3 separate regions of the Homo sapiens genome follow, and regions 1 and 3 are each linked to region 2. The links come from fine-mapping of genetic effects on gene expression. A gene starts in region 2. Each other region holds a variant in brackets. All regions are shown on one strand. Distances are between the middles of the regions.

Region 1 (10,234 bases), 32 kb before region 2:
TGTGTAAGTAAAGAGGAGCCGTATGTTAACAGCCAAGACAATGGGAAAAATGCCCCCAAGACATTTCAGAGACTTTCGTGGCAGCCCCTCTCATCACAGGCCTGGAGGCCTAGGAGGGAAAAACAGTTTTGTGGGTCAGGCTTAGGGCCCTGCTATTCTGTGCAGCCTTGGGACCCTGTTCCCTGTGCTTTAGCTGCTCCAGCTCCAGCCATGGCTAAAAGGACTCCAGATATGTTTCAGGTTGCTGCTCCAGAGGGTATAAGACACAAGCCTTGGAGGCTTCCAGATGGTGTTAAGCCTGCAGGTGCTCAGAGGGCAAGAGTTGAGGCTTGGGAGCCTCCATTCTTTCAGATTTCTGAGGATGTATGGAAACAACTGGATATCCAGGCAGAAATTTGCTTCAGGGGCGGAGCCCTTGTGGAGAACCTCTACTAGGGTACTGTGGAGGGGAAATATGGGGTTGAAGTCCCCACAAAGAGTCTCCACTGGGGCACTGCCAAGTGGAGCTGTGAGAAGAGGGCCACTGTCCTCCACACCCCAGAATGGTAGCTCCATCAACAGTTTGCACTGTGTGCTTGGAAAAGCCACAGGCACTCAACACCAGCCTGTGAGAGCGGCCATGGGGCACTAAGCCCTGCAGAGCCGCCAGAAGCAGAGCTGTCCAAGACCTTGGGAGCCTACCCCTTGCATCAGTGTGGCCTGGATGTTAGACATGGAATCAAAGGATATTATTTTGGAGCTCTAAGATTTAATGACTGCCCTGCTGGGTTTCGGACTTGCATGGGGCCTGTAACCCCTTTGTTTTGGCCAATGTCTCCCTTTTGGAACAGGAACATTTACCCAATGCCTGTACCCTTATTGTATCCTAGATGTAACTAACTTGCTTTTGATTTTACAGGCTCATAGGCAGAAGGGACTGCCTTATCTCAGATGAAACTTTGGACTTGGACTTTTGAGTTAATGCTGAAATGAGTTAAGACTTTGGGAGACTGTTTGGAAAGCATAATTGTGTTTTGAAATGTGAGGACATGATATTTGGGATGGGCCAGGAGTGGAATGATATGGTTTGGCTCTGTGTCCCCACCCAAATTTCATGTCAAATTGTAATCTTCAATGTTGGAGGAGGGTCCTGGTGGGAAGGTAATTGGATCATGGGGGCAGACTTCTCCTTTGCTGTTCTCATGATGAGTGAGTTCTCATGATACTTGATTGTTTAAAAGTGTATAGCATTTCCCCCTTTGCTCTCTCTCTCCTGCCAGCCATGTGAAGATGTGCTTGCTTCCCCTTTGCCTTCTGCCATGATTCTAAGTTTCCTGAGGCCTCCCCAGAAGCAGAAGCATGTAAAGCCCACAGAACCGTGAGTTGATTAAATCTCTTTTCTTTATAAATTACCCAGTCTCAGGTGGTTCTTTATAGCAATGCAAGAATGGATTAATACACAAGGCCAGGTCAAAACTCCTGATCTTCCCCTGAAACCTGCCCCTGCAAGTCTTCCCCTATCTCAGCTAGTGGCAACTTCATCCTTAGAGTTTCTCAGACCCAAAACCTTGACATCATCCTTGTCACCCCTTTTTCTCTTTTATCCCCCATTCATGCCATTAGGAGATCCTATCTGACCTTTAAGCTATATCCAGAATTCAACTATGTCTTGCCACCTCTACTGCTCCCACCCTTGTCCAGGCCACCAGCATTTCTAGCTTGGGGTTTTGCAACAGTCTTCTAACAGCTGTCCTTGCCTCTACCCTTGTCTTCTTACAATCTATTCTCAATCCAGTGGCTTTTTAATATATAATCCTTTTAATATGTAACGTTTAGGCTGGGTGTGGTGGCTCACACCTGTAATCCCAGCACTTTGGGAGGCCGAGGCAGGCGGATCACCTGAGGTCGGGAGTTCGAGACCAGCCTGACCAACATGGAGAAACCCCGTCTCTACTAAAAATACAAAATTAGCCAGGCATGGTGGCGCATGCCTGTAATCCCAGCTGCTGGGGAGGCTGAGGCAGGAGAATTCCTTGAACCTGGGAGGCGGAGGTTGTGGTGAGCCAAGATTGCGCCATTGCACTCCAGCCTGGGCGACAAGAGTGAAACTCTGTCTCAAAAAATAAAAACAACAAAAAAAGTAACATTTAATATGATTTATTTAATATGTAACTCCTCTGTTCAAACCCTCCAATAACTCCTCATCTCACTATCTCACTTAGAGTAAAACCTTGCAGTGGCTCACAGGACCTCCCCACAACTTTCTCATTTTGACTTTTTTTTCCTTTAAAAATAGGGTCTTGCTCTTTGCCCAGGCTAGAGTGCAGTGATGTGATCATAGCTCACTGTAAACTTGAACTCCCAGGGTCAAGCGATCTCTCACCTTAGCCTCTTGGGTAGCTAGTACTACAAGAATGTGCCCCCATACCTAGCTGATTAGAAAAAAGAATTGTAGAGACAGGTTCATGCTATGTTGCCCAGGCTGGTCTTGAACTCCTGGACACAAGTGATCCTCCTGCCTCAGCCTCCCAAAGTGCTGGGATTACAGGTGTGACTCACTGTGCCGTCTCACTTTGAATTTTTTTTGGTGGGGGGATGGAGTCTTGCTCTGTCGCCCAGGCTGGAGTGCAATGGCGCAATCTTGGCCTACTGCAACCTCCACCTCTGAGGTTCAAGTAATTCTCCTGCCTCAGCCTCCCAAGTAGCTGGGATTACAGGTACCTGCCACCATGTCCAGCTAATATTTAGTAGAGATGGGGTTTCAACATGTTGGCCTTGTTGGTCTCAAACTCCTGACCTCAAGTGATGCGCCTGCCTTGGCCTCCCAATGTGCTGAGATTATAGGTGTGAGCCACCGCGCCCGACCTCACTTTGACTTTTATTCTCTCACTTGCTCACTGTCCTCAGGCCATCTGGCCTTTTTCTACTTCCTTCACAGTTGAAGTATGCCTCTGCCCCAGGCTCTTTGCCCTTATTCTTAACTTTTCTCTTAATATTTTCCTCCAAATACTCACATGACTTGCTCCTTCACTTTCTTCAAGTCTTTGCTCAAATGTCCCCTCTCACTGAGGCCTCCCTGACTACCTGTGATATTGTGATTTATAAAAAGATATATATATAAAATATATATATATTTTTAATTTTCTGGGTTAGTTTTCTCTTGCTTATAACAGAATACCTGAAACAAGGTATATAAACAAAAAGGAATTTATTTTTTACAGTTATGGAGGCTGAGAAGTCCAAGGTTGAGAGGCTGCTCCTGGTGAGGGCCTTCTTGCTGTGGGGACTCTGCAGAATTTTTTTTCTTTTTCTTTCTTCGTTTTTTGCACTGTCACCCAGGCTGGTGGCACGATCTCAGCTCGTATGGTCGTACGGTGGAACGATCTCAGCTCATTGCACCCTCCACCTCCCGGGTTCAAGCGATTCTCCTGCATCAGCCTCCTGAGTAGCTGGGGCTACAGGCACACACGACCACACCTGGCTAATTTTTGTATTTTTAGTAGAGACAGGGTTTTGCCGTGTTGGCCAGGCTGGTCTTGAACTCCTGACCTTAGGCGATCGGCCTGCCTCAGCCTTCCAAAGTACTGGGATTACAGGCGTGAGCCACCATGCCCTGCCAACTCTGCAGAATCTTGAGCAGCGCAGGAAATCACATGGCAAATGGGCCGAGCGTGCTAGCTCAGGTCTGTCTTGCTCTTCTTTTTTTTTTTTTTTTTGAGACAGAGTCTCTCTCTGTCACCCAGGCTGGAGTGCAGTGGCGCTATCTCGGCTCACTGCAAGCTCCGCCTCCCGGGTTCACGCCATTCTCCTGCCTCAGACTCCCGAGTAGCTGGGACTACAGGCGCCCGCCACCATGCCCAGCTAATGTTTTATAGTTTTAGTAGAGACGGGGTTAGCCAGGATGGTCTCCACCTTCTGACCTCGTGATCTGCCCACCTGGGCCTCCCAAAGTGCTGGGATTACAGGCGTGAACCACCGTGCCCGGCCTGTCTTGCTCTTCTTGTAGAGTCATCAGTCTGATTCCCATAATAAACCATTAATCTGTTAACCCATGGATTAATCCATGAGCAGACTAATCCATTCATGAGGGCAGAGCCCCACGACCCAATCACCCCATAAAGTTCCCCCATCTTGCAGTACTGCCACATTGGGGATTAAGTTTTTATTTTCTAATTTATTTTTTATTAAATTTTTTTTTGAGACAGAGTCTCACTCACTCTGTTGCACAGGCTGGAGTGCAGTGCCGCGATCTCAGCTCACTGCAACCTCCACCTCCTGGGTGCAAGTGATTCTCATGCCTCAGCTTCCTGAGTAGCTGGGATTACAGGCATATGCCACCATGCCCGGATAATTTTTGTATTTTTAGTAGAGATGAGGTCTCACCATGCTGGCCAGGCTGGTCTTGAACTCCTGACCTCAAGTGATCCACCTGCCTTGGCCTCCCAAATTGCTGGGATTATAGGCATGGGCCACTGGGCCCAGCCAGGGATTAAGTTTCAACATGAGTTTCTGAAGAGACAAACATTCAAACCATAGCAATATTTGTCTCCAGTCCTTTGGCATAGAGTTCCTAAAACCCTTTAATTTCCTGAGTAATAGGGGCGTTAGGAGAATCTTTTGTTCTGATATTTGGTCTTTGATCTTGGTTCCTGACACAGAGATCCTGATCACTTGGAATTTCCTGGGTAATAGTAGCGTCTTTTTTTCTCATGGGGCACCTCTTGGTGGGCTCCTGGATAGGGCTGGTCACCAGAAAGACCAAGCCATGATTAGAAACTTGGAACTTTCAGCTCAGCTCCCCATCCTCCATGAAGGGGAGAGGGGCGGAAACCTGAGTTAGTAATTGGTGGTGCCTATGTGATGAAGCCTCCATGAAAATCCCTGAACTGTGGGGTTTGGAGAGCTTCCGGGCTGCTGAACACGCGGAGGTGCTGGAAGGGCGATGCACCCTGGAGGGGGCGTGGAAGCCACCTGCCCCCTCCCCCATACCTGGCCCAATGCATCTCTCCCATCTGGCTGTCCATCTGTATCCTTTGTAATATCCTTCCTAATAAACAGGTGAACATAAATAAAGTGGTTTTCTGAGTTCTGTGATCCATCCTAGCAAATTATCAAATCCAAGGAGGGCACCATGGGAACTCCAGTGTACAGCCTGTCAGTCAGGAACACGGGTCACAGCCTGGGGCTTGTGACTGGCATCTAAAGTAGGGGCAGTCTTGTGGGACTAAGTCCTTAAGCTGTGCAATCTGACTCTAACTCCAGGTACATAGTGTCAGGATTGAGTTAAATTGTAGATCACCCAGCTGGTGTTGGAGAATTGGTCGGTGTGGGGAAAACTCCACACACATTTTAGCAACCGGAGAGGAAGTATTCTCTGACAAGTATGACTGTAGAAGAGAAAGCAGTTGGTTTTTCCTATTATACACAACTCCATTTAAAATCGCAATAACCCCCGCACCTGCTCTGGCACTGCCAGCCTTCTTCCCTGCCGGATTATTCTCCATAGCACTTGTCTTGTCATCTAGCGTAGAATTTACTTGTTTGTTCGCTTCATTGTTCCTCCCCTCCCACCACCATCACCACCACTGGAAGGGAAGCTCTACAAGTCAGGAAGTTTGCCTGTTTTTTATTTTTCTTTTTATTATGTTCTGTAAAATCAGAGTTTCACTCTGTTACCTAGGCTGGTCTCCAGTTCCTAGCCTCAAGTGATCCTCCTGCCTCAGCCTCCCAAAGTACTAGGATTACAGGCATGAGCCGCTGCACATGGCCAGTTTTGTCTGTTTGATTCACTGATGCCCAGCACCTAGATTAGTGGCTGGCACACAGTCACCTTTAGTAAACGTGTCATGAATAAATGAATGCAGAAGCAGTGGCAGGGGTGAGCTAGTTAGTGAAGGATGGCCACTTCCGGATGAGGGAATAGCATGGAAAAGCACTAAAGGCAGAAGGAGTGTGACATGATCGGAAATGGACATTAGATGAATATAGCTGGAATGAGGGGCATGGAGAAAGGTGGCAAGAGACAGGAGCCGGTTTGCCTGCTAAGGTGTTTGGACTTCAGCCTAAAGGCAGCGAGGAATCGTTGAAAGGTTTCAAGGCCGGGCATGGTGGCTCACACCTGTAATCCCAGCACTTTGGGAGGCCCAGATGGGCGGATCACAAGGTCAGGAGATCAAGACCATCCCGGTTATCTACTAAAAATACAAAAAAAAATTAGCCGGGCGTGGTGGCGGGTGCCTGTAGTCCCAACTACTCGGGAGGCTGAGGCAGGAGAATGGCGTGAACCTGGGAGGTGGAGCTTGCAGTGAGCTGAGATCGTGCCACTGTACTGCAGCCTGGGTGACAGAGCGAGACTCCGTCTCAAAAAAAAAAAAAAGAAAGGTTTCAAGCTGGCAGAAGGGGGTCAGAGAGGTGATGAAATCTGATGTTAGTAATTTAGAAAGATCACTCTTGCAGAAAACATCAGCTTAGAGGTGAAGAGGCCAGCCCCACGGAAGCCACTTGCTTCTCATTTTAGTAACTCTGATGATCAATGATGAGGACCTGAATTAAGTCAGTGGCCAGAGCCATTGAGAGGAAAGGGGATGGATTTGAGAGGTATTTAAGAAGTAAAATCTTTATGACGTGGTAAACAAATCGTCTGTGAGGTATGAGGCAGAGCAAGAGGCTAGGACGACCACCAGACTTCTTGCTTGGGTGGCTTGAGGGATGTGATGCCTTTCCCTGAACTCTGGTGTAAAGCAGTCGTGCTGCCTTGCTAGCCATATTCCTGTGACTGGGCCATGAGGGCCCAGTGCTGATGGGGCACAAAGCCCAAGCCATTCGTCAGTGTTCCCTACGTGTGCAAGCCCAGCTGGTGACAGGAAGTCTGACCTGAGCCCCACTAGTCAGCAGCCTCTCCTTCATTAGGAAAGACCAAGCCTAGCATATAAACATTGCTTTAATTTGTTAGCCAGGGCTTTGTGGCTTCCTGCCGCCTTGACTGCCCTATGAAGCAACCAGAGAAG[G/A]AAATTACACATGGATTTCCTTAAAGAGAAGTTCAGATTTCTCTAAGGTTATAAAGATACAGGCAGCAGTGATCGTCACCACCACCGTCTGCCATGACAACTCATATGTCTGCAAAGCACAGTGCCATTGAGGTGCCTCTCTATGCCTCTGCGTTCTTGAGATCTTTTCCCTTAACTGAATGATGAAGGGAGTGATGAAGAGGGCCCTTTGCTAAGCAGCCTGGTGAACACTGAAGTCAATGATCACAGGAGTCAGATCACCCTTACTACTAAGTTCAAGCTATCTGAACTCCCTTCCAGAATGGGAATGAGGCAGGCTGCAGGATGTGGAGCCCGAGGGCAGCACCCAAGAAAATAGTCTAAAGCATCTTTTGCCTATCTCAGGGACCAGTGGGTGACAATTGGGTCTGAAGCAAAATACTATAAGCAGAGGTAGCAAGAGGGAGTAGGTGAATTCAGTAGAGTGAATGGGAAGCATCCTGGAAAGATTCCCTGAGTGTCTTGGGAAGGAGAAGCAGAGCCTTCCTGTACGTATGAAGAGAGCTGTGAAAGCAACACTCTTAAACTCAAGCAGCTTATAGAACAATGGCCCTGCAGTTTATGGAATGGAGGTGGCAGGGAGTAGCAATAATGGGGCTTAGGATTTAAGAACAGGCACTGTGGGAGGCAGAAGATTTGCATTCATTCATTTTAAAAGACTTTATCGAGTATCTACGTGCACATGAAATAATAGGTAGCAATATAAGATTGTCACATGAACAAATAAACAGCTCATTATAGGCTGGTGCAGCTGGAGGTGGCTTTGAATGCATATATAACTTCTAATGAAGTGTTATGCCTAATTAGTGGAGTAACGTATATAATTTTTGAACTGATGATGCTAAAGATGAGAAGTTTGAGTTACATATGCATTATTTGATGTTAAGACTTATACCCCATGATTTTGAAATAGCTAAGTTTCTTGGTCATCAACTGACCCTACTATGAATTTCAATGAGTGAATCAAGTCAGGAAGCCCACCTTCATAGTGAACATGTTTTAAATGATAATTGAAATAGAAACATTTTTGAGCTCAAAAGACCTTCATAGATTCTTTACTTTTACAGCTCTCTCTACCATTCTTTGTGTTGTTTTTTGTTTTTTGTTTGTTTGTTTGAGACAGGGTCTCCACCCAGGCTGGAGTGCAGTGGCGTGATCTCAACCAGTCCAGGCTCAGGTGATCCTCCCACCTCAGACTCCCAAGTAGCTGGGACTGCAGGTGAGCACCACCATGCCCAGCTAATTTTTATATTTTTCTAGAGTTTTGCCATGTTGCCCAGGCTGCTCGCGAACTCCTGGGCTCAAGGGATCCACCGGCCTCAGCCTCCCAAAGTGCTGGGATTACAGGTGTGAGCCACCATGCCTGGCCTGTACCATTCTTTGAAGGATAGATAGCTATCTTGAACTATGGAGAAATGATCTGAATTTGTAGACAGAAATGAAGAAAAGAACTTGTCTTGCATGGCCAAGTAGGTCTTGTATAACCTTATCACTCTGAATGGAAACAAATGGTTCTCTGGGGCATATATATAGAGAGAGAACATAGGTAGTATTCTATACTGCTACACAATACCAACTGTTTTTACTTTTACATATATGACAAACAGCATTGGAGAAACTAGCAAACCACTCCAAAAGAAACCACACTCTATATAATATAAATTTTTCCCCAAACTGCAATCATATCAGCCTGCTTGAGTACAGCAAAATGCATCTAGGTTACTGGGAAATCTTAGGGTGGCAGTGTTGTTCACTCTAAATATATTAGTGTTCCAGATAAAACTGTGGTTCCCTTTTTGCTGATATGTTTACAATTTCTTTGAATAGAAAAGAGGAAGTATTACAATATGAGAAAGTTTCCTTAAATAATGACGTGGCAAAATGTGTGAAATCTGAGAGGAAAAGCAAGCAGTTAAATTATTCATGAAGCTTCTCAACTGGGTTTTTCAATGAGATTGGTTTGTTTCAAATAATACATTGTGAAATATGTAATCTAACATACTTAGAGGAAATGAAGTTCAGTGAAATTGACTGTTGCATGAAGATAGCAGCTTACCAAAATACATAACCATAGTTATGAAAACTCATACATTGCTACGGAACTAATGGATCAGAAACACTGGAGAGTTTTTGCTTCTGAGGAACAGTCCACTTTCACCGCCTATCTTCAGAACCGCCACGGAGAGGGAGAACTAAGAACATCTAGCTGTTAATTTCCTGCATCATTGGTGCAGAATGTGGCACATTGTAAGAAAAAGTGACAAGCTCAATAGTCTAGGTTCTAAAAATATGCCCATTTTGGGCCAGGCACGGTGGCTCACACCTGTAATCCCAGCACTTTGGGAGGCTGAGGCTGGTGGATCACGAGGTCAGGAGTTCGAGACCAGCCTGGCCAAGATAGTGAAACCCCCATCTCTACTAAAAATACAAAAATTAGCCGGGTATGGTGGCGCTCGCCTGTAGTCCCAGCTACTTGGGAGGCTGAGGCAGGAGAATTGCTTGAACCCAGGAGGTGGAGGTTGCAGTGAGCCGAGACTGTGCCACTGCACTCCAGCCTGGGCAACAGAGTGAGACTCTGTCTCAAAACAAAAACAAAAAAAATGCCCATTTTGGGTTCTAGAATAAGCAGATAATGTGTTTTCAACATTTAAATGCTTCTTTCAGAAAAGAGATTTTATATATATATATATATATATATATATATATATATATATATTTTTTTTTTTTTTTTTTTTTTTTTTTTTGAGACAGGGTCTCACTCTGTCATCCAGGCTGGAGTGAGTCCTGTGGTGAGATCATACCTCACTGCAGTTTCAAACTCCTGGGCTCAAGCAATCCTCCTGCCTCAGTCTCCCAAGTAGCTGGGACTACAGGTACATGCCCGGCTAATTTTTAAATTTTGTTGTAGAGACAGGGTCTTGCTATGTTGCCCAGGCTTGTCTGAAACTCCTGGCCTCAAGCAATCCCACCTTGGCCTCCCAAAGTGCTGGGATTACAGGTGTGAGCCAACGCACCTGGCCAAGACACAGTATCTGATTCGCTGACATCTGAGGAGAGTAAGGATAATTTACAGTATCTGATTCATTGACATCTGAGGAGATTAGTGATAATTTACAAGACACTTCTTCTTCCCCGTGAGTGGCACTCGCTTTCTTAAACCAATAGCAAACACACTTTTCACCTTAGAGGACTTCACTGTCCCCGCGTGT
Region 2 (10,234 bases):
TCATTTTCCTATGGGGGCTCCCATGTACATGTAAAAATCTGTGTACTTTTCTCTGTTTTTAGAGATAAGATCTCGCTCTGTTGCCCAAGCTGGAGTGCAGTGGTCCGATCATAGCTCACTGCAACCTCAAACTCCCAGGCTCACGCTCAAGCAATCCTCCTGCCTCAGCCACCCAAAATATTGGGATGGCAGGTGTGAGCCACCTTGCCCAGCCCTTTCTCCTGTTATTCTCACTTGTGTCAATTTAATTCTCAAACCCAGCCAGAGAGCCTAAGAGGGTAAAGGTAAAGTTTTGCTGCCCCTACAATTTTTTTTTTGTTGTTGTTGTTTTGTTTTGAGACAGGGTCTCTTGCTCTGTCACCCAGGCTGGAGTGCAGTGGCACGACCACCGCTCCTGCAATCTTGACCTTCCAGGCTCAAGTGATCCTTTCACCTCAGCCTCCCAAGTGGCTGGGACTACAGGCATGTACCACCATGCCCGGCTAAGTTTTGTATTTTTTGTACAGATGGGTTTTTGCCATATTGCCCAGGCTGGTCTGGAACTCCTGGGCTCAGGTGATCTGCCTGCCTCATCCTCCCAAAGTGCTGGGATTACAGCTGTGAGCCACTGCACTTGGCTTATTTTTTAAACAAAACAAAAAATCCATCCCAAAAAATTTGTAGCAAATCATTTGACAATTCATTTCACCACCTATAAAATAAGGTGTTTGGCCTAGAATATCTCTAAGGTTCCTTATAATCTAATATGGCATATTTTGCTTTGTTTTTTTTTTTTGCATATTTTGCTTTGAATGATGAATTATTATTTGCTCAGTCACTAGACAATGATTTTAGTATTTACGCTCTGGCCATTGTGCCATCACTGGACATAGAGTGGGGAACAGGAAAAATATGATTGTTCATTCACCTAGTTTATTGTCAATTGGAGAAATCAAGGGTGGGCACTGCTTGCTATAACCAATCAACTGCACAAAAATGATGAACATGTACCTGTTAGGACAAAGACAGTTTTCTCTGCTCGAGACAGATAAGCTCCATTTTTGTTGTTGTTAAAGTAATAAGGCTTTCCCTGTTACTTTGCAAAACAATTGGAGATCTAACTCAGAACGCTTCAATGAAGTCCTGAATTCCCTGAAATCAGATGGCCGCTAGTCACTCCCAGGATGCTGGAATGGTATTAAAATATTGCCTCTTGGCCGGGTGCAGTGGCTCATGCTGTAATCCCAGCACTTTGGGAGCCCACGGCGGGTGGATCACTTGAGGTCGGTAGTTCAAGACCAGCCTGGGCAACATGGTGAAACCCCATCTCTACTAGAAATACAAAAATTAGCCAGGAGTGGTGGCACAGGCCTGTAATCCCAATGGGAGGCTAAAGCAGGAGAATCGCTTGAACCCGGGAGTCGGAGGCTGCAGCGAGCTGAGATCATGCCACTGCACTGCACTCCAGCCTGGGTGATAGCGTGAGACTCCATCTCAAAAATCAATCAATAAATAAAATTTTTAAAAATATTGTCTCTTGAATCAAATATTCCAGATGGAAGCATGAGGATTTGTACCAGTTATTATCCATTTCTAGGCCTTTTACCAACATAACTTAGGACCATATAGGTGAAAACGGAATGAGGTTCTAAGGAAGGCATGTACTTCCCTTTCATCTTTACAACAGTTCTGCAAAGAAAGTGACATTATCTTTTCTTCTTAGCTGAGAAAACAGGCTCAGAGAGTGAAGTAATTTCATAAAAGTCATGTTGCTAGAAAGTAGTGAAACGCAGTAAACCCAAGTTTGTCTGGCTCCAAATGATTTCATTATTTTCACCACAACATGCTTCTTCCAGTGAGAGAAAGCTTTGAAGCCGTGTTTACCAGAGTCTGTTCTGTGAAGCACTAATAAGGCAAGATGTTACACAAGTGCAAATGGATGCCATGGTCAAGCAACTCTGGGGAATGCCAAGCATATTAAAGCCAGTGAAGTCTTACAGAAAATACATTTTTATTTTTATTTAATCAGCTTTTCCCCCAAACTCATTTGATTACCAAATCTAGATTTTTCTTCATTTAACACTTATTAACATCTCTTGAAACCAATTAAAATAATCTGGTATTTGCTTAGTTAAATGTCTGAAAGAAAGAAGAAAAAGGATTGAATGAGAGCTTTAAATTGGAAATTCAGTTTGCAAAGCAACTAAAATAAAAAACTAGCAGTTATGGGGGAAGCATTTTAAAAAGATACAGTCTGTGCTCCCAGTGCAGCTGGGAGATGGAGATGGTGGGTGGATGGAGAGAGTCAGAGGCAAAAAGGGAAACAGACATGAAACAATTCAGACAGCATATTTCGCTCAAGTTTTTAGTGATTCATGTGGGCTGAAGCTGAAGAAAAGATTGGGAAGAGGAAAGAGGCTTGAGCTGGCCCCTGAGGGATGTTAAGATTTACTCAGGGAGAGAAGAGGCTGGGAGACACTGAAAGAGAAAACAGGTTTGGAGAGTTAAAAAACAAAACAAAACAAAACAAAGCTCAGGAACTATATAGGGAAATAAAATACGACAGGTAGAGTTGGTCTAGATTATGGACAATTACACAGGCCAGGCCAGTGTCTCACGTCTGTAATTCCAGCACTTTGGAAGGCTGAGTCCAGCAGATCACTTGAGCCCACAAGTTTGAGACCAGCCTGGGTAACATGAAGAAACCCTGTCTCTACAAAAAATGCAAAAATTAGCTAGGAGTGGTGGTATGCACCTGTAGTCCCAGCTATTTGGGAGGCTGAGGTAGGAGAACTGCTTGAGCCCAGGAGGTCAAGGCTACAGTGACCCGAGATTGTGCCACTGCACTCCAGCCTGGGTAACAGAGCAAGACCCTGTCTCAAAATAAGTAAATAATAAAAATATAGACAATGATACAGAAATCATTCTGTTGATAATGATGGAAAGGATTAAAATCTGAAAGACTATGTAGACAGTCAATCTGGATAATATGTGCAATTAAAATAGATTTTTGAATTTCACAACTGGAAGGGCTCTTAGAGCAAAGTTAATAAATATCTGTCTAATGAATCAGTCAATCCCTTGCTCTACACATCTGATAACTGAAGCCCAGAGAGGTCACTTGATTTTCCTAATGTCACACAGCTCACTAGCAGCACACCTGAGTTGATAATTCATGTCTTCTGACTATCGAGAGGTACAGTACTCATGAACTGGGCATAAAACAGTGCCAAAGAAAGTGTAGAATATGGAGCATGTGACATAAATCAGCACATCCAACAGAGGGTGGTTTCTGTTTGAAGAGATCTCTTTAAAATAATTAAGACAACGAACCCCAAACCTCCTACTGCAAAAGCAGTACTCTTTTTAACTGTTTCTATCACAACTTGGTCCAATACCTTGTGCAAACAAACATGATATGTATGGAGGTTGCTGTTACTAAAGAAACAAAAATTACAGAAAAAAGAAAATTACATTTCCAAAAGGCAGCATTATCTCTGAAAGAATATGGGCCAGGCATGATATCCATGCCTGTAGTCCCAGCTGCTCGGGAAGCTGAGGTGGGAGGATAGCTTGAGCCTAGAAGTTGGAGGCAGCAGTGGCACTGATGAGGCCATAGTGCCTGCGAATAGCCATGCACTCCAGTCTGAGCAACACAGCAAGACACAGTCTCTACAAAAATAAAAATAGGCTGGGCATGGTGGCTCATGTCTGTAATCCCAGCACGTTGAGAGGCTGAGGCAGGAGGATCTCTTGAGCCCAGGAGTAGAGACCAGCTTGGGTAACACAGTGAGACAGTCTCTACAAAAAATAAAAAATAAGGCCGGGCGCGGTGGCTCACGCCTATAATCCCAGCACTTTGGGAGGCTGAGGCAGGTGGATCACGAGGTCAAGAGTTCAAGACCATCCTGGCCAACATGGTGAAACCCTGTCTCTACTAAAAATACAAAAATCAGCTGGGCATGGTGGCGCACACCTGTAGTCCTAGCTACTCTGGAGGCTGAGACAGGAGAACCTCTTGAACCTGGGAGGCGGAGGTTGCAGTGAGCCGAGATTGTGCCACTGCACTCCAGCCTGGTGACAGAGCGAGACTCCGTCTCAAATAAATAAATAAATAAATAAATAAATAAAATAAAAAAATTAATGGGACGTAGTGGCGCATGGTGGTCCATGCCCATAGTCCCAGCTACTTGGAGGGCTGAGGTAGGAGGATCATTTGAGCCCACGAGTTCGAGGCTGCTGTGAGCCTTGATTACACCACTGCACTCCAGCCTGGGCGACAGAGCGAGACACTGTCTCAAAAATAAAAAAATTTAAAAAGCACATATGAAAGGTAACAGAAAAGTAGAAACTTTCCTGATAAAAGAGCATCTTCTTAAAATCCCTACTCTACCTCATGTTATAATCCTTTTACTTACTACTTAGTATTAAGGATACGTTCCCTATCTGTTTGAAACATGTTTGGCGCTGGGATTTGCTTCAAAGGAAGATACTAACAAGAAATAAGAAATTCCACAATGAAAACCCGCGGTGACCAAAAAGATAACAGTGATTTGGGGTAAAATTTTGACTAAAAAGATTAGGCTAGGCTGCGCGAGCATTTTTGGCCATGAAAGCACAGGAGGATGCTAGAAAAAACAGCACCGTGGAAAAAGCGTTTCCCCAGAAGTCTGGGAGCCCACCTTTGGCATGAAAAGCGGGAGCACAGGTTGTAGTGAGCCAAGATCGTGCCACAGCACTCCAGCCTGGGCAACAGAGCAAGACTCCGTCTCCAAAAAAAAGAAAAAGAAAAAAAGAAAAGTGGGAGCACAGAACAGAAAATACAGAATGCAAGCTGCCAATTATGGGAGAAAGATTATCACTCGGCCCCCAGCTGGCAGGGCCACACGATTACGTGACAAGAGAGTCCGCCTGCAATCGCAGCAGGCGGCTGGCAGAGCCCGGCGCGACCCCCAGCGAAGACTACCACTCCCAACTGCGCACGGGGCGCGCCGCCGGGGCCGCCAGGGCGGCTTCACGCGCAAGGCACTGTGGGACTCGTAGTCTTTCTCCCCACCAGCTCCTCGGAGGCGGAGAGACCCGATTTTTTTGTAAATGATCCGCCCTTCCAGGCCCTGCTTCTCTTTCCTCCCTTTCCCTCCCACCTCCTTCTTTCACCGAGAGTTTGAAAATTCCCGCGGAGCCGGCGCTAGAGCGCGGAACCATCGCGAGAACTCTGGTCCCTGCAGCCGCGATCTCCCGCCGGTTCTCCCCTCCCTCTCCGCCCTTTCCTCTGCTCCCTCCCTTCCGGGGCGTGTGGAACTCGGTTTTGTCGGCGCAGGGTAATGCGCAGAGCGGGGCCGGCGCTGTCCGAGGCGAGCAGGCAGCGTTGCAAGGGGAAGGACCCAGAAGCGCGGCGGGAGCAGCGACTGCGTTTTAGCCGCTGAGCGGTCTGCAGGCCTACAGCCCGCGAAGGCACTCTCGGGGGCGTGTGGCTCTGAGGTGGCCGGGGAGGTCGCAGGCGGCGGCCGGAGCGCAGAGGAGCGGCTTCAGCCGGGCGGAGGGGTGTGAGCCCGGCCCGTGGCGGCCACGTCTCCCGGGAGATGCTGTGACGGACCCGCACGGGAGGAGCTCGCGCCTGGCCTGGCGACCCGGTGGACTCGGCCCGCGGCGGCGCGCTCACCCGCCCCGTTCAGGTAGGGGGAAGGGAGGGAGGGGGTTGGGCCCGCGCGGCGGAGGGCGGGTCGCGCGGCCTGGACCCGCGGCGGCGGCGGCGGCGGCGGCGGCGGCGGCGGGGCTTCTGCCCCGCGAGCGCCGGGCCTAGGCCGGGCGTGCGCGGGGCCAACGGATGGGGCTCGAGGGGGCGAGCGGTGGCGGTGGCGGGTACGGCAGGCTCGCGGGCGCCGGGCTTCGTTACATAATCTCGGACCGGAGGAGCGGCGGCACATGGCGGCGGAGCGGCGCTGGTGGTTCGCGTCCTGCGCCGGCAGTCGGGTCCCTTTACGGACGGCCGGGGCCGCGACCCTTTCCCACTGTTCTCCCACGCGATGGACTCGTTGGCGGGCCTTTCCCCGAGGGAAGCGGCCGGCGTGCTGAGCCTGTCCTGTGTTGGCGTGTGTTCCACATGCGCTTGGGCCTGGCCACAGTGAGTAGTCCTGGCGGGGAAGAAGTTGGACTCGGGGCTCAGCCGTGAGGTTCCAGCTCACCCGATTGGTCAGATCAAGGAGATTTAAAATAAAAGCACATCTTGGGGTGCTTTGCCTTCCTTTTTCCTACCTGGGAAACAGGACGGTTTCTTTTGCCACTGGTTGACTGTTTTGGTTTGGGTGTTTTGTTTTGAGAGATGGGGAAATTTTGTTCTCAAAGCTTACGAGGTTCATACTATCTGTGTGCAAAGTTTTATGAGATGAGCGTTATTTTTATTTCCAAATCGTCAGTTGTAGAAATTTTTGGAAGAACTGGGTTCTTCATAGAACAAAACGTAAATCCTTTGGGGAAATCCTAAACGATATTTATTCTCAGAATATCCTAAAGAACCTGTAGATTTTAAGAACTGTCTTTGGCTGGGCGCAGTGGCTCCTGTCTGTAATCCCAGCACTTTGAGAGGCTGAGGCGGGAGGATCGCTTGAACCCAGGAGTTTGAGACCAGCCTGAGCAACATGGCGAGACCCCCCCTTTTTTTTTTTTAAACTGTTTTTTTGTGAGCTTTCACTGATAGAGTCTCTTAGGAGAGAAGAAATTAGAGTGGTTTACTTATTTCGGAGGATTTGACCTGGGATGACAAGCCCAGTTAAGGTTAATACTTGAAGGGATGTTTTAAGTGTGCCAAGCGCTATGGGAAGTCTACGTTGTCTCTGTACTGTGATTTTTGGATCCTGATCCTTCAGTAACATACTACCAAGCTGTCACGAGTTTGCAAACAACAATAATTATCTTGAAAAAATTTTTAAAACATCATGTCAACCGGGAATTGGTGGCGCCTCTAGTCGCGCGCCTACTTGGGAGGCTGAGGCGGGGGGAACGTTTGAGCTTCAGCCTCAAACTGAGAGTTCGAGGGTTGCAGTGAGCTAGGATCGCGCCGCTGCACTCAGCCTGTGTGACAGAGCGAGAACCTGTTGCTAAAATAAAATAAAAAAGATCGTTATACATCAGTTTTGAGACTTTTGTTTTCTTTTTATGCTTCTCCTTTTTCATAGGTACAGATACATCTTTTTTTTTTTTTGAGACGGGGTCTTGCTCTGTTGCCCAGGCTGGAGTGCAGTGGCACAATCTTGGCTCACTGCAACCTCCGTCTCCCAGGTTCAAGCGATTCTCCTGCCTCAGCCTCCTGAGTAGCTGGGATTACAGGCGCACGCCACCACACCCGGCTAATTTTTGTATTTTTAGTAGAGACGGGGTTTCACCATATTGGCCAGGCTGGTCTTGAACTTCTGACCTCGTGATCCGCCCGCCTTGGCCTCCCAGAGTGCTGGGATTACAGGCGTGAGCCACCGCGCCCGGCTGGTACAGATATATTTTAAGAGGAAGCAAAACGTTGTGTCTTTCACGCCTACCTTTAATATTTTCAGGGACTTTTCTTTCTTCCCAGAATGAAGTGTAACTTCCCTCGGTTAGCTCAAAGGTCTCTACAATAAGTATATGCTACTGTCTATCCTCATATGTTAACAAATTTTATGCTTTTGCTATTCCAGAATCGTCATCAATCCTGGACTCATTCTGTGGAAGAGATGTTTCCACTCTGATGTTTCTTTGCTCATGTCCTTCATCCTGGAGTGCCATCTTTCCTTTTTTAAATACTCAAATTTCAGGTCCTCCTTCTAAATCCAATGTTTTCACTGTATTTTTATTTTTATTTTTATTTTTTTGAGACGGAGTCTCACTTTGTAGCCCAAGCTAGAGTGCAATGGCGTGATCTTGGCTCACTGCAACCTTCGCCTCCAGGGCTCAAGCGATTCTTGTGCCTCAGCCTCCCGAGTAGCTGGGACTACAGGAACGCGCCGCCACACTCGGCTAATTTTTTGTATTTTAGTAGAGACGGGGTTTCACCATGTTGCCCAGGGTGATCTCGAACTCCTGAGCTCAGACGATCTGCCCACCTCGGCCAACCAAAGTGCTGGGATTACAGGCGTGAACCACCGCACCCAGCCCACTGTACTCTTTTATTTCCCCTTATCCCACTTTTTTACTGGGATCTCACAGCATATGTACCTCTATTGTAGTAGCATTTATTCTTTGTGTCTGATACTCTGATAATTGACTATATATCTCCTTTTCTAGATTGTAAACTCCTTAAAGTCAGGAAGAAGGTTATCTTCTTGACCTTGCATTCCTTTACTAACACGGTGTTTTAAAAGTAGTTTGTGATTTTAAAATGTTTGAATTAAGTTGGTAAGAAATTTCTGAAAGGCTTGAAGTTTCTGGGTCCACTGGTAGTTTACATTTAAATGACAATTCGTCTTTTTATTAGTCAAAAAGAAAAAAAGTACCATTGCATACAAAGTGGTTTATAGAAATGTTTGCTTGGTACATGTTGCAATATAATTGTTGAACTAGATTAGAGTTCCATTTTCTGTGGTGGAATTCAGTTACTGCAGGAATTTGTGTATTTCACACAGAAAACTGATTTATAGTATTCTGTTTTTAGTATCTGGCCTAGTAATTTTAAGAATTTTGTTTTGTTTAATACTGAACCAGTGTATACTTAAAAATAATTGGGCCCAATCTTGAGTTTTAAAAAATTGATTTTATTGTTTAACATGCCTATTTCTTGTCTCTGCTAGTATCCTAATAATATCCTGCTATACAGTATCCTGTTATCCTAATTTATTACATTTAGGACCTGTTAGTCCAAAGGCACTGTGACCTTGTCGAATGCCCAGGAATAAGATTTGGTGATTTTTGCCTTTTAGGAATTCATAGTGTAGTGGAGAAGACAGGCAAGCAGAAGTAATTTTTTTTTTTTTTTTTTTTTGAGACGGAGTCTCGCTCTGTCGCCCAGGCTACAGTGCAGTGGCGCGATGTCGGCTCACTGCCAGGTCCGCCTCCCGGGTTCATGCCATTCTCCTGCCTCAGCCTCCCCAGTAGCTGGGACTACAGGTGCCCACCACCACGCCCGGCTAATTTTTTTTGTATTTTTAGTAGAGATGGGGTTTCACCGTGTTAGCCAGGATGGTCTCGATCTCCTGACCTCGTGATCCACCTGCCTTGGGATTACAGGCGTGAGCCACCGCACCCGGCCGAACAGTATTTAATTTAATTAATTAATTAATTTTTTGGTGGCGGAGTCTTGCTCTGTCGCCAGGCTGGAGTGCAGTGGCGTGATCTTGGCTTATTGCAACCTCTGCCTCCCAGGTTCAAGCGATTCTCCTGCCTCAGCCTCCCAAGTAGCTGGGACTACAGCGCGCTACCGCGCCCAGCTAATTTTTGTATTTTTAGTAGAGACAGGGTTTCACCATGTTGGCCAGGATGGTCTGGGTCTCTTGACCTTGTGATCCGCCAGCCTCGGCCTCCCAAAGTACTGGGATTACAGGCTTGAGCTACCGCGCCCGGCCATGAACAGTATCTTCATTCAAAGCCAGTAGAACGTTCCTGCTCTGCCTATCTAGCCTTTGGAAAGGAATTGAAACTTAGTAAATTACTTTTTATAGGTTGCCAGTGCTGGCATGTCATAAAAGGCTGGGATTCTGTTTAATTTTGTACAGTACTGAACGTAGGTGTTTCATGTGTGTTTGTGTTTTCATATACCTTTATATGAGATATTCTTTCTAATAATATAGTTTTTCTTTTTGAGACAGTCAGGCTGTGTTGCTGAGGCTGGAGTGTAGTGGCACCATCTCAGCTCACAGCTACCTCCACCTCCCCGGTTCAAGCGATTCCCATGCCTCAGCTTCCCAAGTAGTCGGGATGACAAGCGTATGCAGCCGTGGCTGGCTGCTACATTTCTTGTTTTTAGTAGAGACGGGGTTTCACCATGTTGGCCAGACTGGTCTCTAACCAACTCCTGACCTCAGCCATTCTCCCGCCTTGGCCTCCCAAAGTGCTGAGATGACAGGTGTGAGCCACAGTGCCTGGCCTATTTCTTTCTTTTTTTTTTTTTGAGACAGAGTCTCGCTCTGTCGCCCAGGCTGGAGTGCAGTGGCACGATCTTGGCTCACTGCAAGCTCCGCCTCCCGGGTTCACGCCATTCTCCCTCCTCAGCCTCCCGGGTACCTGGGACTACAGGTTCCCGTCACCACGCCCTGCTAATTTTGTTTCTGTATTTTTAGTAGAGACGGGA
Region 3 (10,234 bases), 18 kb before region 2:
AGTATATGAGAACACTGCGGGAGAGCTTCTACTCTTAATTAAATAAAATTACTTATACACATTTTGTCACATAATACAGTTAAGCACTGCATAACAGTTTCAGTCAATGATGGACCTCATAGACGACAGTGATCCCCTAAGGTTACAATAGAGCTGAAAAATTTCTATCACAAATACTTACCATTGTGTGATGATTTCCTTACACTATTCAGTACAGTAACATGCTGTACAGGTTTGTAGCCTAGGAGCAATAGGCCTGTATTGGTCTATTTTCATACTGCTATGAAGAAATACCCAAGACTGGGTAATTTTTAAAGAAAAAGAGGTTTAATGGATCCAGTTTCACATGGCTGGGGAGGCCTCACAATCGTGGTGGAAGGTGAAGGAGGAGCAAAGGCACATCTTCATGGTGGCAGGCAAGAAAGCACGTGCAGACTTATTCACTGTCGTGAGAACTGTATGGGAAAAACTCCCCCTATGATTCAATTACCTCCCACCAGGTCCCTCCCATGACACGTGGGGATTATGGGAGCTACAATTCAAGATGAGATTTGGATGAGATTTGGGTGGGGACACAGCCAAACCATATCAAGGCCTTACCTGATAGCCTAGGTGTATAGTAGGCTATACTATATAGATTTGTGTAAGTACACTCAATGATTTTCTCAGAATGTATCCTGAGATGACTGTATGACTGTATTAAATTTTTATTTTCTCAGTTATTATTTTCCTAAAAACTTAGTGAGCAAGAAAACCCTATAAGAATATAGAGATAGCAAGTCAGAGTTTCGAGCTGGAAGTGGCCTGAGAGATCGTCTAATCCAGATTCCACATTTTTACAGATGATCTGATCAGTGATCATTTTACAGGAATTTGCATGAAACTTAAGGCTCTAGACACACATGGTTTCCATATATAGAAGCCTGATTCCAAATCCTGTACATTAGACAAGACAATCAGAATCTTGTGTTATCCTGATTTTTGTTCTTCATCTTCCAGTTACATGGGTTTTCTTGTGAGAGCTGAAATAATAGTATCACCTTTGGGGAACGGTGACTGCCAGTTTTGGATCAATCTTAGGCCACTGGAAGGTTGGTGGATCTTCTCCAGCAATTCGGGCTGAACTCAAGCAAAGCTGAGTCTAAGATCAGTTTGGACCCTTTCCCCTGGAACAGCTGGCAGGCATTGCCTGTTCCTGTCCTTGGCTTTCAACTGCTGGACAACATGTTTGGGGAGTGTGTGCCAATATTTGGGTTTTTATTCTTCTGGTTTAACAGTTGTTAGTGCCGTTGGCTCTCAGGGAAATTCAGGACAATCTCCTTCTGTAGCTTTAAGGTTGGCCTGATTGGCAAGACAGTTGAGGACAAACTGAAGTCATTCGTTCATTCATGTGCCAGTGTCCCTGTGCTCAGAAACAGTTGTTTTAAGGATGGCAAAATGGAAGACTTGAGGATTTATGATAATACTGAATGGCTATCCTCTAGGGCACTGTTGAGTCTTAGCAGAGTCCCAAGCTCTACACTTACCCTGAGTTTTTAGGCTTCTTTGTTTTTCGGGTTTCTTTTTTTTTTTTTTTTTGCTTGTTTGTTTGTTTGTTTTGAGACAGTCTCACTCTGTCGCCCAGGCTGGAGTGCAGTGGCGTGATCTCAGCTCACTGCAACCTTCATCTCCTGGGTTCAAGTGATTCTCCTGCCTCAGCCTCCTGAGTAGCTGGGATTACAGGTGCCTGCCACTATGCCCAGCTAATTTTTGTATTTTTAGTAGTAATTTTGTATTTTTACCACGTTGGTCAGGCTGGTTTTGAACTCCTGACCTCAGGTGACCCACCTACCTTGTCCTCTCAAAGTGCTGGGATACAGGCGTGAGCCACTACGCAGGGCCCATTTCTTTGTTGTTTTTTTGTTTGTTTTTGAGATGGAGTCTTGCTCTGTCACCCAGAGCTAGAGTGCAGTGGTGCGATCTTGGCTCACTGCAACCTCTGCCTCCCGGGTTCAAACGATTCTCCTGCCTCAGCCTCCCGAGTAGCTGGGACTACAGGCGTGTGCCACCACGCCTGGCTAATTTTTTATATTTTTTTTACTAGATGCGGGGTATCACCATGTTAGCCAGGATGGTCTAGGTCGCCTAACCTCGTGATCCGCCCGCCTCGGCCTCCTAAAGTGCTGGGATTACAGGCGTGGCCCACTTTGTTTTTATTACTGAGGTTATTCTGTAGGTTTTCTGAAAATAAGCAATCAGCATCTAGGTCCAAATTTACAATTTGTAATGACATTCCAAAATTCATCAATGAATAAAACAATAGCTAGGAATGTCATGTTAATTATTTAAATACGTTGGAATCTGCCAATGTTCCCTTAAGCCTCCCTCCAAAGGAGGCCTGAAGTTGAGCGTATGACAAGAAAATATCTAGTAGAGTAGAACAAACTTAGTATTACACCGAAAGCCTAGGGAAGTATTACAGTCCAGCCATTGGGAACCTCAGAGGATTGTGGGGTGGACATGCCCTTCTAAATTGTGGCTCAAGTAGGGTCACATCCTTTCCTAGGTTTCCTTCATTGTGGCTGAGACTGGCAATAATTTCTTTTTTAAAACAAAATTTATACAGATAAGGCCTCACTATGTTGCCCAGGCTGGTCTTGAACTCTTGAACTCCTGGGCTTAAGTGATCCTCCTGCCTCAGCCTCCCAAAGTGCTGGGATTACAGATGTGAGCCACTGCACCTGGCCAAAAATCAATAGTTTCTGAAAAGAAGTTGCTGAATACTGTTGAGGAATAAAAGATGAATTAAATATGGAGAATAAAGGAAGCATAACACCAGCATGCTGGAATGCACCTGTAGTCCCAGCTACCCAGGAGGCTGAGGAGGGAGGATCACTTGAGCCCAGGAGTTCAAGCTTGCAGTAAGCTGTGATTGCACCACTGTACTCCAGCCTGGGCAACAGAGTGAGACCCTGCCTCAAAAAAAAAAAAAAAGAAGAAGAAGAAGCATAACATTATTTATTCTAGTCATTCATTCAACAAATATTCATTGAATACCTAATATGTGCTGGAGATATGAACTGTGAACAAAACTTTATAGAAAGCTTACAGTTTTTAATATCCTTTTTCTGATTAAAGAGGAAAACAACTTGCAAACTGCAAGGAGACACAAAATAAATAAAATGTTTAAATCACCTGTG[C/T]AAAATACAAAGGACACTAAAGAAAATTTGAAATTATCATCTGTGGTCTCTGTTTTCATAGAGCTTCCACTCTGGTGGTAGAAGTGGTACTTGGGGGCTGGACACAGTGGCTCACGCCTATAATCCCAGCACTTTGGGAGGCCGAGGCAGGCAGATCACTTGAGGCTAGGAGTTCGAGACCAGCCTGGGCAACAAGGCAAAATCCTGTCTCTACTAAAAATACAAAAATTAGCCAGATGTGGTAACATACGACTGTAGTCCCAGCTACTCAGGAGGCTGAGGTGGGAGAATCGCCTGAGCCTGGGAGGTCAAAGCTGCCATGAGCCAAGATCACACCACTGCCCTCCAGCATGTGCGACAGAGCGAGACCCTGTCTCAAAAATATATAGTGGTACTTGGGAAGCCAGACAGTAAACAAAGATGAACTGGTGCTGTGAAGAAAAAGCAAGGTAAGAGGACAAAGAGCGGGGGGAGAAGGTGCACTCTAGGTAGGGTGGTCAGGGAAACCTCTTTGACAAAGCCTATGGGGCTCATTCTATCCCTTTCTAGTCCCAAAGGGCTGGCCCAGCTGTGCCAGCACCTGGCTTACCAGGTCTCAGCAGTTCCCACAGGAAGGATCTTCCACACAGAAGCTGGCTTTCCTGACAATTTGGATCGTTGTAGCTAAGGACCAGGGCCTCTGTGGTTGACCTGAGACTTGCCTCTTTGTTCTAGTTTCTGGTCTAGGAGCGTGTAATAGTCTCCTAAGGCTGCTATAACAAAACACCACAAATGGTGTGCCTTCAAACATCGGAAATGTATTATCTCAGTTCTGGAGGCTCAAAGTCTGAAATCAAGGTGTCAGCAGGGCCTGACTTCTGCCAAGGCCTCTAGGGAAGAATCCTTCCTTGCCTCGCCCAGCTTCTGGTAGCCCCAGACATTCCTTGGCTTGTGGCAACATCACTCCAACCTCCACCACCTTCGACGTGGCCATCTCCCCTCCGTGTCTGTTTTCCCTTCTGATTGTATGAGGACCCACCCTATTCCAGCATGACGACTTAATTAATTGCACTTGCAGTGCCTCTATTTCCGAAAAAGGTCACATTCTGAGATACTGGGGGTAGGACTTCAGCATACCTTTTTGGGGAACACAGTTCAGCGCATAACAGAGACCAAGAGTCCAGGCCCAAGGGCTAGGGTGATTTTTATAATGATGACATAATGACACATACTGAGGGTGTCTCGGTGCCTCCATTTCAGACCAACTATATGACAACACTTAAACTGAGTAAAAAGCACAATATTCCTACAATATGAATTGCACTCATTCTGTAACAAAAGGGACATGAAGTCATACCTTTGTTTTATTACTAACTGTATATTGTTTGATAGTAAACAAGTTGACATGACTTTGGAGGAACAGGGTATACCTGTTTGATATTTTTCAATTTGGAGTGGTCATAAGAATAGCTACTGTTTTACAAGTTTACTCATTTAATTTTCACAGTCATCCTAGGAGGATGAAACTACTGTCATTTTGCATTTTACAAATGAAGAAACCGAGACAGAGTGGTCAAGTACCTTGTCCAAAGCTGCTCAACTAGGAAGAGACAGAGCCAGGAGAGCAATGAAATGTTAATAGCTTTACAAATCCCTGTAATTGTCATTTGTTTCTATATTGGGTGGATTTTTTTTTTTTTTTTTTTTTTTTTTTGAAACGGAGTTTCGCTCTGTTGCCCTGGCTGGAGTGCAGTGACGAAATCTCTACTCACTGCAACCTCTGCCTCCCGGGTTCAAGAAATTCTCCTGCCTCAGCCTCCCGAGTAGCTGGGAATACAGGAGCGTGCCACCACGCCCAGCTAATTTTTTATGTTTTTAGTAGAAATGAAATTTCACCGTGTTAGCCAGGCTGGTCTCAAACTCCTGACCTCAGGTGATCCGCCCACCTTGGCCTCCCAAAGTGCTGGGATTAGAGGCGTGAGCCACCACCCCTGGCCTGGGTGGATTATTTTTAAAGGATTATATATAATCAAAAAGAATGGCAAGTCTGAATCTTTTCAGTAATTATTTTTAAACCATTTGAGAGGCCTTCCTAGTTGTATATTCAAGCATAGTCCTTGGTCATAAGCACACACCAATTTTGTCTTTCTCCCAAAAGGTCACGAATTATGAAACTAAGCAAAAGCAGGAGGCAACCAGATAAAAGTGGGGAAACATATTCTCCTTTTAATCCGTAGGCTCTTTGGTGAGTTACATCAGGAACTCATGACCTCCTTTGGCTTTCAGTAACTGAAGCCTAGTATATGACTTTAGTACAATAAGATTTTATTTCGTAAAATGAGGCACATAGCCACTTTAAAAATAAAGACACAAATATCTCTTCTGTGGCATAAGATAATAAAAATATTACTTAAGCCGTAAATCTGAAGCCGAATTAATTCTGTATACATTTTCCTGCTACAGAATGTCACTTTTATACGATTATATTTAAAGACACATACAAAATTGTTAGTATGTAATTGATGGTTATACTATATAAAAGAAAAGTAATTAGTCTTTTCCATTTGTTTGCAAAGTAAAAAAAATTATATCTCAAAAAGTCACACTGACCACAAACTCAATAACAAGAAGGCGTGGGGAAGTAAGGGACCTTTGATGAGGTGGAAAGATCAGTCACTGTTGGGAACCTGTAAGAATAAGAACATGCAGCTCAGTCAGGAAGGAAACCCCAGGGTTCAAGAGATAGAGCTCTTTTTTTTTTTTTCTTTTTTTTTGAGACAGGGTCTTGCTCTGTCGCCTAGGCTGGAGTGCAGTAGCATGATCTCGGCTCACTGCAACCTCCACCTCCTGGGTTCAAGCGAGTCTCCTGCCTCAGCCCCCCAAGTAGCTGGGACTAAAGGCATGTGCCAACATGCCCGACTAGTTTTTGTCTTTTTAGTAGAGACGGGGTTTCGCCATGTTGGCCAGGCTGATCTTGAACTCCTGACCTCAGATGAGCTGCCTGCCTCGGCCGCCCAAAGTGTGGGGGTTACAACTGTGAGCTACCAGGCCCGGCCCAAGAGATAGAGCTCTTTAGGAGGAGATACTAGTCTCACTAGATCCAACATAAATGGATTGAACCAGAGCTAAAAATTCCACCTGCCTCTCACAGAATTAATTTTAAAAGAAAATACCATCATATGGTATTCCTGTTTTCATTTTTACCAGCAGGGTCCTTCTGTTTCATTACTCCAATCTTTAATTCTTTTCTGGAGTTCTGGAGTTGCTGTTAGCATTAGAAAAGTTTTGCATGTGATAGCTGTTTCCTTAAATATCATGCAAATATTCTTGAAAGCATCCTCAATGCTGTTGAAGTGCAAAAAAGGAAACTAATATTCATCAGACACCTACTAAATATCTGGCAGTATTCTAGGTATTGTACATAGGGTATGTAATTTCGTTCTCAGAACAGCTCTGTGAGGTGGGCGCTATTATTATTCCAGTTTACAGATGAGGGAATAGATGCTTAGGGAGAGGCAAGGCTTAGGGTCTTCAGAGCAATGAGGCGAATGGCAGGGTATAAAGCCCTTAGCCTCTTACCTCTCTTGTCTTCTATGAGCCTGTTGCTGGTTATAAACTTGCTTGAAAAGTTTGCTCTTAGTGCTAAATTGTGCAACTCAGACACACTAAAACAACTATTTATTGTACACACATCGTGCCAGACACTTTTCATGCAACACCATTAATTTAATCTCTACAGTGGCAGCCCTGTGAAGTTAGTATTATTTTCCAATTTTATTGCCAAGGAACCTGGGACAGAATGTAAATCAAGGTACTGTTTCCTTCATTGAGAAAGTCTGACTTTGGAAAAAAAGTCAGCCAAGTTAAGTAGTGTGTTGAGTGGCGTGGCTCATTTTATTTTCTGGTGCAAGCCCCTTATCTCCTCGCAGCCTCGTACAGACAGTTTGGGATCCACACTTGGAGTGGCATTGGCTTAGAAAAGGTCAACTACAGCCAGGCGTGGTGGCTCACACCTGTAATCCCAGCACTTTGGGAGGCTGAGGAGGGTGGACCATTTGAGGTCAGGAGTTCAAGACCAGCCTGGCCAACATGGTGAAACCTCATCTCTACTAAAAATACAAAAATTAGCCAGGCGTGGTGGTGAGTGCCTGTAATCCCAGCTACTCAGGAGGCCGAGGCAGGAGAGTTGCTTGAGCCTGGGAAGTAGAGGTTGCAGTCAGCCAAGATCACGCCACTGCATTCCAGTCTGAGTGACAGGGTAAGATCCTGTCTCAAAAAAGAAAAGAAAAAGAAAAGGTCAACGACGTCACTCATCGCCTCACAGGTAATGAGTGTGGAGACAGAATTCCAAGCAAACTGTGCTCTTTCCCAATACCACATTATCCTTCCAGTATTCAAGGAATGAAATCATGGCCTCAGCAAACAACTCTGCAGAATTTTCTCCTGCCACAGGGCTTTCCTTGTCCCGTTCCTTGCAATAATTTTGCAGCATGTATATTATATTAGAAAAACAATAGCTACTTAAATGTTCCATTAGAATTATAGAAGGCTGTGATACTGGTACATGGTAATTCATGGAGGTGAGCACCAGAAATTAAAGTAAGACATAAGATTGTCCTCTGAAAATAAAACAAGTGATGTCTGTACCCATTATGGATAGAATTATCCATCCGTGGGATTAAATCAAGAGACTGTGAATAAACGTGTGGTTGAGATGCATGGAAACGCCCGATATACCACTCACAGTGTCCCAGAAACAATGCCAGGGAGAAAAGCCTGATTGTCGCTTCATCAGCAAAAACCCAAATCTGTTGTACTCTGCCCTGTGTGGAATGACCTTGTGCTTAGAATGGCAGTAGTGCGGGAAAGGAAGTCGGAGACCCAGAGTTGGCTGTGTTGATCTAGAACAGACTGTTCTCTGTTGAGAGGCAATTGTGAGTCACCAGGCTTCCCAAACCTTCAAAACAATCCCCACAAGCCATGTACAGTGGTGCATGCCAATAGTCCCGGCTTCTCAAGAGGCTGAAGCAGGGGGATTGTTTGAGCCCAGGAGTGTGAGGCTATGGTGCACACTATATGACAGGCATGACAGTGCCTGTGAACGGCCACTGCACTCCAGCCTGGGCGACAAAGGGAGGGTCTGTCTCTAAAAAAAAAACCACCCCCCCAAAAAAAATAAAAAACCCTATCACCCCATTTACTCTTTGATTTTTTTTTTTTTTTTTTTGACGGAGTCTCGCTTTGTCGCCCAGGCTGGAGTGCAGTGGCCCGATCTCAGCTCACTGCAAGCTCCACCTCCCGAGTTCATGCCATTCTCCTGCCTCAGCCTCCGGAGTAGCTGGAACTACAGGCGCCCGCCACCACGCCCGGCTAATTTTTGTATTTTTTGTAGAGACGGGGTTTCACTGCATTAACCAGGATGGTCTTGATCTCCTGACCTCGTGATCTGCCTGCCTTGGCCTTCCAAAGTGCTGGGATTACAGGCGTGTGCCACCGCGCACAGCCTACTCTTTGATTTCATGTTCACCAAGCCATATTTTGATTACTCGGTTTCCCACACATCTCACTATCTGAAGAGAGGATTCTCTGGATCAGGCCTACAGGAATCCCAGTTAAAGCAAAGAAATATCCACTATTATCAATCAGTAAGTTAGAATTTTGGTTTCTAGATACACTTCTTAGGATTGTGGTTCCCACAAGTCAGTCTCCTTGAGACAGATGAGCTCTAGGAGTCCTGGCATGACCAAGTTTTCTCCAAGAGCAAGACTGGAGCCAGGTTTGTGGTGCTGTCACCGGGAGAGGGCCCGCCTGGCTGCCAGCCAGATGCCATCTCGCTCATCACCCCTCCTTTCAACCTTCACAAATGAGTGCAATTGTTGGCTACATAAAATGCCAGGAAATAAGTAAAAGTCCGAGAGGGTATGAAAATTTATCAGAAGGCTAAAAATGAGTAAGAAATCAGACCGCATAAGAATTGAGAACATAATAGGGACCACGTGGTTCAGAAAAGTGGCAAGGCAAGAACAGGCAAAGGCTTTGGAAGAGAATGAAAGTACAGTCACGTTGTAGGGAGAAATTTTCATGGTGTAGATAGAAGACGCTCTGTCATATAGTGATAGGTAGACTCAAGAAAAATCAGAAAGCAATCAAGATGGGATGGGACGTGGGATTAGGAAGGTCAAAGGACTAAAATGCAGCGGCGGGAGGATGATAGCCTCAGCCGGTGTGGCACGGGGAGCATTTTCATTGCACATCCTTCTGGGGAAAGACAATGAGCTAAAAAATAAAAGCTCAAACCTCCCGTATTTATGGAACTATCGTATAACTTTAGATTGCTTCATCTTTTTGCCATCTAAAACCTCTCAGAGGCTGGGCGCAGTGGCTCACACCTGCGTGAATTTGAAATGGCAAGGGACAGACAGACTTCTCCAATGGAACCAAGTCTTCAATCAGAACCGGTTTAACACCTCAGCATAAATCATATCCCAAGGAGCTACTCGGAACCTTAAGCTGCTTTTCTTTCTTTCTTTTTTTCAGGGTCCAGTCGTCGACCATCGAGCTGCTTTGAAGACCCTGCGGAGGTTCCGTCGCTGCTTGAACACAGTGCCTGGACTCCCTGCTCCGTGAGGCGAATTTACACCGGGTCCAGCTGCGTCAGCCCGAGTTCTGAATTAAAACATGCCTCCCACAGAATCTATTTCTGATGAATATGAAAGGAAGATTGTTCTTCCATGTTGGTTTTTATTGAGATATCTCTTTTTTTCCCTTTTCATTTGGTTGTCCTAACTCCATGAATAGAAAAGAAAATGTATTAATTCATTTTTTAATTTTCTTTTTTATTATTTTGTTAGTGTTTCACTTTTTTTCTGCACTACACAGATGTAGTGTATTCATTCATTTTTTTAAAAAAAAAGGCTGGGTGCAGTGGCTCACACCTGTGATCCCAGCACTTTGGGAGGCTGAGGCAGGTGAATCACGAGGTCAGAAGTTCGAGACCAGCCTGGCCAAGATGGTGAAAGCCCGTTTCTACTAAAAATAAAAAAAAAAAAATTAGCTGGGCGTGGTGGCAGGCGCCT

Direction of the effects. Alleles are on the strand shown, and positions count from the first base shown. SD is a standard deviation of normalised expression in the study named. Not every link is listed here.
For the expression in whole blood of the gene that starts at base 5,284 in region 2, A is the low allele of the variant in region 1 and G is the other (small effect, 0.40 SD a copy in GTEx).

What was found.
Region 1: its variant is fine-mapped to the expression of AHCTF1 in whole blood (TOPMed, PIP above 0.99).
Region 3: its variant is fine-mapped to the expression of AHCTF1 in whole blood (INTERVAL, PIP 0.99).

Annotation. Positions count from the first base shown.
Region 1 is chr1:246,958,818-246,969,051 of GRCh38, reverse strand. ZNF670-ZNF695 (ZNF670-ZNF695 readthrough (NMD candidate)) reads left to right here. Exons shown (of 7, transcript NR_037894.2): 6 at 1,260-1,357. It also overlaps a transcript of ZNF695 not described here. Among named protein-coding and RNA genes, the nearest start is that of AHCTF1, 32 kb to the right of the region's middle. RefSeq lists enhancers at 6,470-6,519, 6,570-6,729. The variant G/A (reference allele first, on the strand shown) is at 6,987.
Region 2 is chr1:246,926,998-246,937,231 of GRCh38, reverse strand. It overlaps AHCTF1 (AT-hook containing transcription factor 1), which reads left to right and starts at 5,284. Exons shown (of 36, transcript NM_001323342.2): 1 at 5,284-5,654. RefSeq lists enhancers at 4,902-4,951, 6,072-6,161 and a silencer at 5,632-5,731.
Region 3 is chr1:246,945,289-246,955,522 of GRCh38, reverse strand. ZNF670-ZNF695 (ZNF670-ZNF695 readthrough (NMD candidate)) reads left to right here. Exons shown (of 7, transcript NR_037894.2): 7 at 9,696-9,977. It also overlaps a transcript of ZNF695 not described here. Among named protein-coding and RNA genes, the nearest start is that of AHCTF1, 18 kb to the right of the region's middle. The variant C/T (reference allele first, on the strand shown) is at 3,180.